Homo sapiens: one gene and its partner. The protein of the gene in region 2 interacts with the protein of the main gene of each other region in a pairwise test. Each region holds a gene or a part of one and is shown on either strand. Other genes may lie near its edges.

Region 1 (3,718 bases), on a different chromosome or scaffold from region 2:
GTATTTTCTTTGTTTTCCTTCATACTGATTTTCATTTTTATTGTTTGTTATAGAACCTCTAAAATGCAGACCTCCAGCTCTAGATCTGTGCACCTGAGTGAATGGCAGAAGAATTACTTCGCAATTACATCTGGCATATGTACCGGACCGAAGGCAGATGCATACCGTGCACAGATATTACGCATTCAGTATGCATGGGCAAACTCTGAGATTTCCCAGGTCTGTGCTACCAAACTGTTCAAAAAATATGCAGAGAAATATTCTGCAATTATTGATTCTGACAATGTTGAATCTGGGTTGAATAATTATGCAGAAAACATTTTAACTTTGGCAGGATCTCAACAAACAGATAGTGACAAGTGGCAGTCTGGATTGTCAATAAATAATGTTTTCAAAATGAGTAGTGTACAGAAGATGATGCAAGCTGGCAAAAAATTCAAAGACTCTCTGTTGGAACCTGCTCTTGCATCAGTGGTAATCCATAAGGAGGCCACTGTCTTTGATCTTCCTAAATTTAGTGTTTGTGGTAGTTCTCAAGAGAGTGACTCATTACCTAACTCAGCTCATGATCGAGACCGGACCCAAGACTTCCCGGAGAGCAATCGTTTGAAACTCCTTCAGAATGCCCAGCCACCTATGGTGACTAACACTGCTAGGACTTGTCCTACATTCTCAGCACCTGTAGGTGAGTCAGCTACTGCAAAATTCCATGTCACACCATTGTTTGGAAATGTCAAAAAGGAAAATCACAGCTCTGCAAAAGAAAACATAGGACTTAATGTGTTCTTATCTAACCAGTCTTGTTTTCCTGCTGCCTGTGAAAATCCACAGAGGAAGTCTTTTTATGGTTCTGGCACCATTGATGCACTTTCCAATCCAATACTGAATAAGGCTTGTAGTAAAACAGAAGATAATGGCCCAAAGGAGGATAGCAGCCTGCCTACATTTAAAACTGCAAAAGAACAATTATGGGTAGATCAGCAAAAAAAGTACCACCAACCTCAGCGTGCATCAGGGTCTTCATATGGTGGTGTAAAAAAGTCTCTAGGAGCTAGTAGATCCCGAGGGATACTTGGAAAGTTTGTTCCTCCTATACCCAAGCAAGATGGGGGAGAGCAGAATGGAGGAATGCAATGTAAGCCTTATGGGGCAGGACCTACAGAACCAGCACATCCAGTTGATGAGCGTCTGAAGAACTTGGAGCCAAAGATGATTGAACTTATTATGAATGAGATTATGGATCATGGACCTCCAGTAAATTGGGAAGATATTGCAGGAGTAGAATTTGCTAAAGCCACCATAAAGGAAATAGTTGTGTGGCCCATGTTGAGGCCAGACATCTTTACTGGTTTAAGGGGACCCCCTAAAGGAATTTTGCTCTTTGGTCCTCCTGGGACTGGTAAAACTCTAATTGGCAAGTGCATTGCTAGTCAGTCTGGGGCAACATTCTTTAGCATCTCTGCTTCATCCTTAACTTCTAAATGGGTAGGTGAGGGGGAGAAAATGGTCCGTGCATTGTTTGCTGTTGCAAGGTGTCAGCAACCAGCTGTGATATTTATTGACGAAATTGATTCCTTGTTATCTCAACGGGGAGATGGTGAGCATGAATCTTCTAGAAGGATAAAAACAGAATTTTTAGTTCAATTAGATGGAGCAACAACATCTTCTGAAGATCGTATCCTAGTGGTGGGAGCAACAAATCGGCCACAAGAAATTGATGAGGCTGCCCGGAGAAGATTGGTGAAAAGGCTTTATATTCCCCTCCCAGAAGCTTCAGCCAGGAAACAGATAGTAATTAATCTAATGTCCAAAGAGCAGTGTTGCCTCAGTGAAGAAGAAATTGAACAGATTGTACAGCAGTCTGATGCGTTTTCAGGAGCAGACATGACACAGCTTTGCAGGGAGGCTTCTCTTGGTCCTATTCGCAGTTTACAAACTGCTGACATTGCTACCATAACACCGGATCAAGTTCGACCCATAGCTTACATTGATTTTGAAAATGCTTTTAGAACTGTGCGACCTAGTGTTTCTCCAAAAGATTTAGAGCTTTATGAAAACTGGAACAAAACTTTTGGTTGTGGAAAGTAAGTGGGATACTTGGAATCAAGGCATCTCTGTAGTACAGTCTTCTTTATTTTTTAGCATAGAAAGTTGGGGATGTGTTAATTGTATTTTTAAGAATATATTCTAAGTTCTGTACTTCAAATAATAGCACAGATTTTACATCTGATTGACATAGTGTATGTTAATGTAAGTTTTGCTTTCCAGTGATTACCTGATACGTAAGCCTATTTGAACAAAGTGAGAATGAACTTTTGTTTCTAAGAAGTCTTTATCTTGAAGCTATATAACATGAAAAGTGAGCTCAAATTTTTTTTAGTTGAAGATTACATATAAAGTTGTGTCTGATTAATATTCATCTTTTATTGAAGAAAGTGCCTTCTGATGGCCACATAATTCTTAATGTCAGCTAGTATAATGGTTTACATTTGGACAAAGTATTGCTTAGTGTTATTTAAGTAGATTTAAGATCTCAAAGCTAAAGTGCCAATTTTTACTTTCTTCAGCCAATTTGTTACCTCTTTTATGGTTTTTAATTTTTATCAGGACTAACATTTTCAGAAATAGCAAGGTGTGATCTAGTATTAGATTCACAGAACTGAAAGGTTAATTAAGAATGTTGGTTATTTTCACGGGAGCGTGTGATATTTAACATTAATATTTTATTTGACACTACAGCCTGTAATACTGCTCTCTTTCAAAAACAAGTTTTCAGATTTTTATAACAGACCCATTTTGTTTTATGAAACATGTTCATTACAGAAACATGAGAAAATAGAGATAAGTAAAAAGAATAAAAGTCACTATTATCCTACCACTTTGCGGGACACACTATTAATATTTAAGCATAGATTCTTCCAGATGTTTTGTTTTATACAGCAGTAGGATTGTGTAATGTATTCTCTCTTGTAGCCTATTCTTCAAAGCGTATCTTCACTTTCCATGTTAACATAAATGTCCTTTTATGATTGTCTAGGATTCCATGGATGGATGGAATATAATTGAGTCATCTGGTAGAGCGCATATAGGACAGGACGCTAGGTTGTTTATCTTTTGTTTATTGTAAAGGAACTATGTGGGATGCATTTGGTGATCTTTTTAAAAAATGTATAAATTTCTTGAGTAATTCCTGGATTAAAGAATATGCACTTTTTAAAGCTTTTGGCTTGCATTCTAAATTGTCCTCTTGAAAAAGTAGTTCCTGTGTAAAACTCCATCTGCACTGAATCAGAGCTATGGCAGCATTGGGCAGTAGGCAGTTTTGGTATTTGTTGGCATTCTTTTTGCATTTATTCAAAAAACTGAAGGTAGTGAACGTAGAGCAATGAACAACACAAATATCCTTGGTCTCGTGGAGGTTATATTTAAGTTCTAATGTTTTCTCTTGTGAACAGTGCAATTTGAAATGACAAATTGAAACACTTTTAGTTGTTGAATTTAGACAGTTTGTGTATATAGTTTAAATTTTTATTCTTGGTTTGCCTTCTGTTTTTATGTTAAAAGATTGTTGCAATTTTTAGTTTTTCCCTTTGTAATATGTGATTGTCTTTCATTAGAATTCATTTTTTGTTTTGTTTTGGTTATTTTGAAACAGTCTCGCTGTGTTGCCTAGGCTGGAGTGCAGTGGTGTGATCTCAGCTCACTGCAACCTCTGCCT
Region 2 (3,500 bases):
AAAGATAGAAGGTGATGAGTGACTTAGGTATAAATTAAGTACAATAGAAATGTTGAGGAAAGAAAAATTTCTTGTAATAGAAATCGGAAGTACAAACTGGGCATGGTGGTGTGCATCTCTAATCCCAGCTCCTTGAGAGGCTGGTATGGGAGGATCACTTTAGCCCAGGAGCTTGAGGCTGCAGTGAGGTGTGATCATGTCACCGCACTCCATCCTGGGTGACAGCAAGACCGTCTCTCTTTTTTTTTTTTTTTGAGACGGAGTCTCGCCTATGCTGGAGTGCAATGGCGCGATCTTGGCTCACTGCAACCTCTGCCTCCCAGTTTCAAGTGATTCTCCTGCCTCAGCCTCCTGAGCAGCTGGGATTACAGGTGTGCGCCACCATGCCCAGCTAATTATTTTGTATTTTAAGTAGAGACGGGTTCTCACCATACTGGCCAGGCTGGTCTTCAACTCCTGACCTCTTGTTCGCCCATCTAGGTCTCCCAAAGTGCTGGGATTACAGGTGTGAGCCACCCCACTTGGCCCCGAGCGAGACCCTCTCTCTAAAAAAAAATAAATAAATAAATCATAAACCTGTGGATTATTGTAGCATTGTTTCTCATCTGTCAAAAATATTTCATGACTATGCATAGTTTGAAAAGGCAAGTTTGTCCCTGGGCAATTTTCAAAATATTTCTTTAATGTGTTTTCACAATACTGTTTACCTAATAAATCTTAAGTTTTTAAAAGCAAAATTAAGCCAGTAATTTGAGTCCAATTCCAATCTCTTATGAGTCATTGCTTAAATTTCAAAAGGGTTTTATTTTTTTTTTAGGTTTGTTCTGAGTAATGAATACCCTATTACTATGATACTAGTATCTTCCTTAATTATCCTACTCATTGTCTCAACATTCTGACAGTTGGATTGAGCATATTCGTAAGTAAAATTGTTTTAACTGTATGATGTACTTTGATGTTAAGGTCCGAGTCCCCACATACCTCGGTAGATGTGTTCTTACAGTTTTGTATTCCCTTGAAATGTAACTGTTCTCTATGTTACAGCCTTTATAACCTTCAGTTACTTGAAATGAACAAATTCATTCAAATTCCAGCACTTAAAAGTTTTAAATTACATTTTGGATAAATACCAAAGTGTTTTGTTGATGATGTATGTATAAACAAATTGTAAATATTAAACGTTAGTTGTTACGATTAGACCTATATAAAACATGATATGCAGTCTACTGAATAGCTATCAGCCTCTAACATGTTTAGTGTCATTTAGAAAATGCTTTCTAAATTGCCAAAAGCTGATTGTCTAGGTGATAACAAATTTACCATTTGGAGGAAGTTGACTTTCTCATTTTCATGTCTTCATCAGTCTTACTTGATGAGATTCATTCTTCTAGTCAGAAGAGAGTTTAGACTGCTCAGTTTACTCATATTTTGAGTTAGCTTTTCTATTTAGAGTTCACTTGGTTGTGGAATATTCATTTATAATTTGAATCTACGTTGTGTAATGGGACCTAATTTTTTTTTCCTTTGTTTTTGTTGGAGTCTCGTTTTGTCACCCAGGTTGGAGTGCAGTGGCGTGATCTTTGCTCACTGCAACCTCCACCTTCCAGGTTCAGGTGATTCTCCTGCCTCAGTCTCCCAAGTAGCTGGGATTACAGGCATGCTTCACCACGCCTGGCTAATTTTTGTATTTTTAGTAGAGATGGGGTTTCACCATGTTGGCCAGGCTGGTCTCAAAACTCCTGAGCTCAAGTGATCCTCCTGCCTTGGCCTCCATAAGTGCTGGGATTACAGGCGTGAGCCGCTGAGCCTGGCCCCAGAGTTTGTTTTGTTTTGTTTTCAAGACAAGATCTCACTCTATTGCCCAGGCTGGAGAGCAGTAGTGCGATCATAGCTCACTGCAGCCTGAACTCCTGGGTTCAAGCTATTCTCCTGCCTCCATCTTCTAAAGTGCTGTGATTACAGGTCTGAGCCATGATGCTTGGCCTGTGTTTTTGTTTGTTTGTTTTGGGGGACAGGGTCTTGCTTTGTCACCAAAACTGGAGTGTAGTGGTGCGAACATAGCTAGCTCACTGCAGCCTCCATCTCCCACGCTCAAGCAATCCTCTCACCTCAGCCTTCCAAGTAGCTGAGACCGCAGGTGCGTGCTACCATGCGTGGCTAATTTTCTATTTATATATTTATTTTTTGGTAGACATGAGGTCTTGTCATGTTTCCCAGGTGGTCTTTAACTCCTGGGCTCAGACAGTCCTCCCGCCTCAGCCACCCAAAGTGTTGGGATTACAGGCGTGAGCCACCATGCGTGGCATAATTTTTTTTAAGTAAATTATTTTTTTATCTTGAGTATAGAAGTGATTCATGTTCATTGTGGAAAATATGAAACATATAGAAAAACAGAAAAGATTACAAAACATCTAATCTGAAATGGTTAAGATTTTGATGAGAACAGTCTCATCTCATTTCCGTATATTCCTGCCAGCCTATCCATCATTCTTCGTACATGTTTATCTACATTAAAATTGGTGTTATATTTTGGAAACTTTTTGTTTAACTACATTGTGAACATTTTTCATGTTTTAAAATGTCATTTTAATGATGGCAGATCCTATTCAATAGATGTACACACACCTATTTAACTGGTCCACAATTGTTGGATATGTAGGTCGTTTCCTTTCTCTCTTTTTTTTTTTTTTTGGCTACTACTTAATAGTTTCTCTGTATAGAATGTGGTATTTTGAAAGTGTATCAAGCTTTAGATTGGTAGTATTCTTGCATTTAATAAAGGGCAGTGGCCTTTGTTGACTGACATGACAATATTTTTATAAAATTTGTTATTTGCTTTACAGAAATTTTGAAAATTATTGTAGAAATGTTTTTACCTCATATGAACCACCTGACATTGGAACAGACTTTCTTTTCACAAGTGTTACCAAAGGTATAATACTATTACCTGAAAATACATGTTATAAGGAATCTAGCCTCAGTCTTAGATGATTTATTATTAATTATGGCTCTCTTTTTCTAATATATCAAATATATTCAAAATAAAAATAAGGAGTAAGTAGATCTCATGTGAGACTATAATGGTGTTAGTGTGATCATTAGGCAGTTAAAAACTGTTACAGGCTGGGCACGGTGGCTCATGCCTGTAATCCCAGCTCTCTGAGAGGCTGAGGTGGGCAGATCATCTGAGGTCAGGAGTTCGAGACCACCCATGGTCAACATGATGAAACCTCGTCTCTACTAAAAGTACAAAAAATTAGCTGGACATGGTGGCAGGTGCCTGTAATCCCAGCTACTTGGGAGACTGAGACAGGAGAATTGCTTGAGCCTGGGAGGCGGAGGTTGCATTGAGTCAAGATCGTGCCATTGCACTCCAGCCTGGGCAATAAGAGCGATGCTCCGTCTCAAAAAAAAAAAAAAAAAAAAAAGAACTTATATTTTCAGATTGTGTGGTTCCTTTACTAACTGAATTTAAATTATTTGTAGTCAATTTTAAATGC

What was found. The genes of interacting proteins can lie anywhere in the genome.
Region 1: the proteins of FIRRM (region 2) and FIGNL1 interact in binary tests that used the Homo sapiens proteins (3 or more experiments, as listed by UniProt).

What each region holds. Positions count from the first base shown.
Region 1 is NC_000007.14:50,443,633-50,447,350, reverse strand, and holds the end of FIGNL1 (fidgetin-like protein 1), read left to right. Parts: intron 1-53; 5' UTR 54-63; coding exon 64-2,088; 3' UTR 2,089-3,218; downstream 3,219-3,718. UniProt on the Homo sapiens protein: Involved in DNA double-strand break (DBS) repair via homologous recombination (HR). Recruited at DSB sites independently of BRCA2, RAD51 and RAD51 paralogs in a H2AX-dependent manner. May regulate osteoblast proliferation and differentiation.
Region 2 is NC_000001.11:169,798,040-169,801,539, forward strand, and holds part of FIRRM (FIGNL1-interacting regulator of recombination and mitosis), read left to right. Parts: intron 1-817; 5' UTR 818-879; coding exon of another isoform or gene 880-919; intron 920-2,843; coding exon of another isoform or gene 2,844-2,866; coding exon 2,867-2,932; intron 2,933-3,500. UniProt on the Homo sapiens protein: Regulates PLK1 kinase activity at kinetochores and promotes faithful chromosome segregation in prometaphase by bridging kinase and phosphatase activities.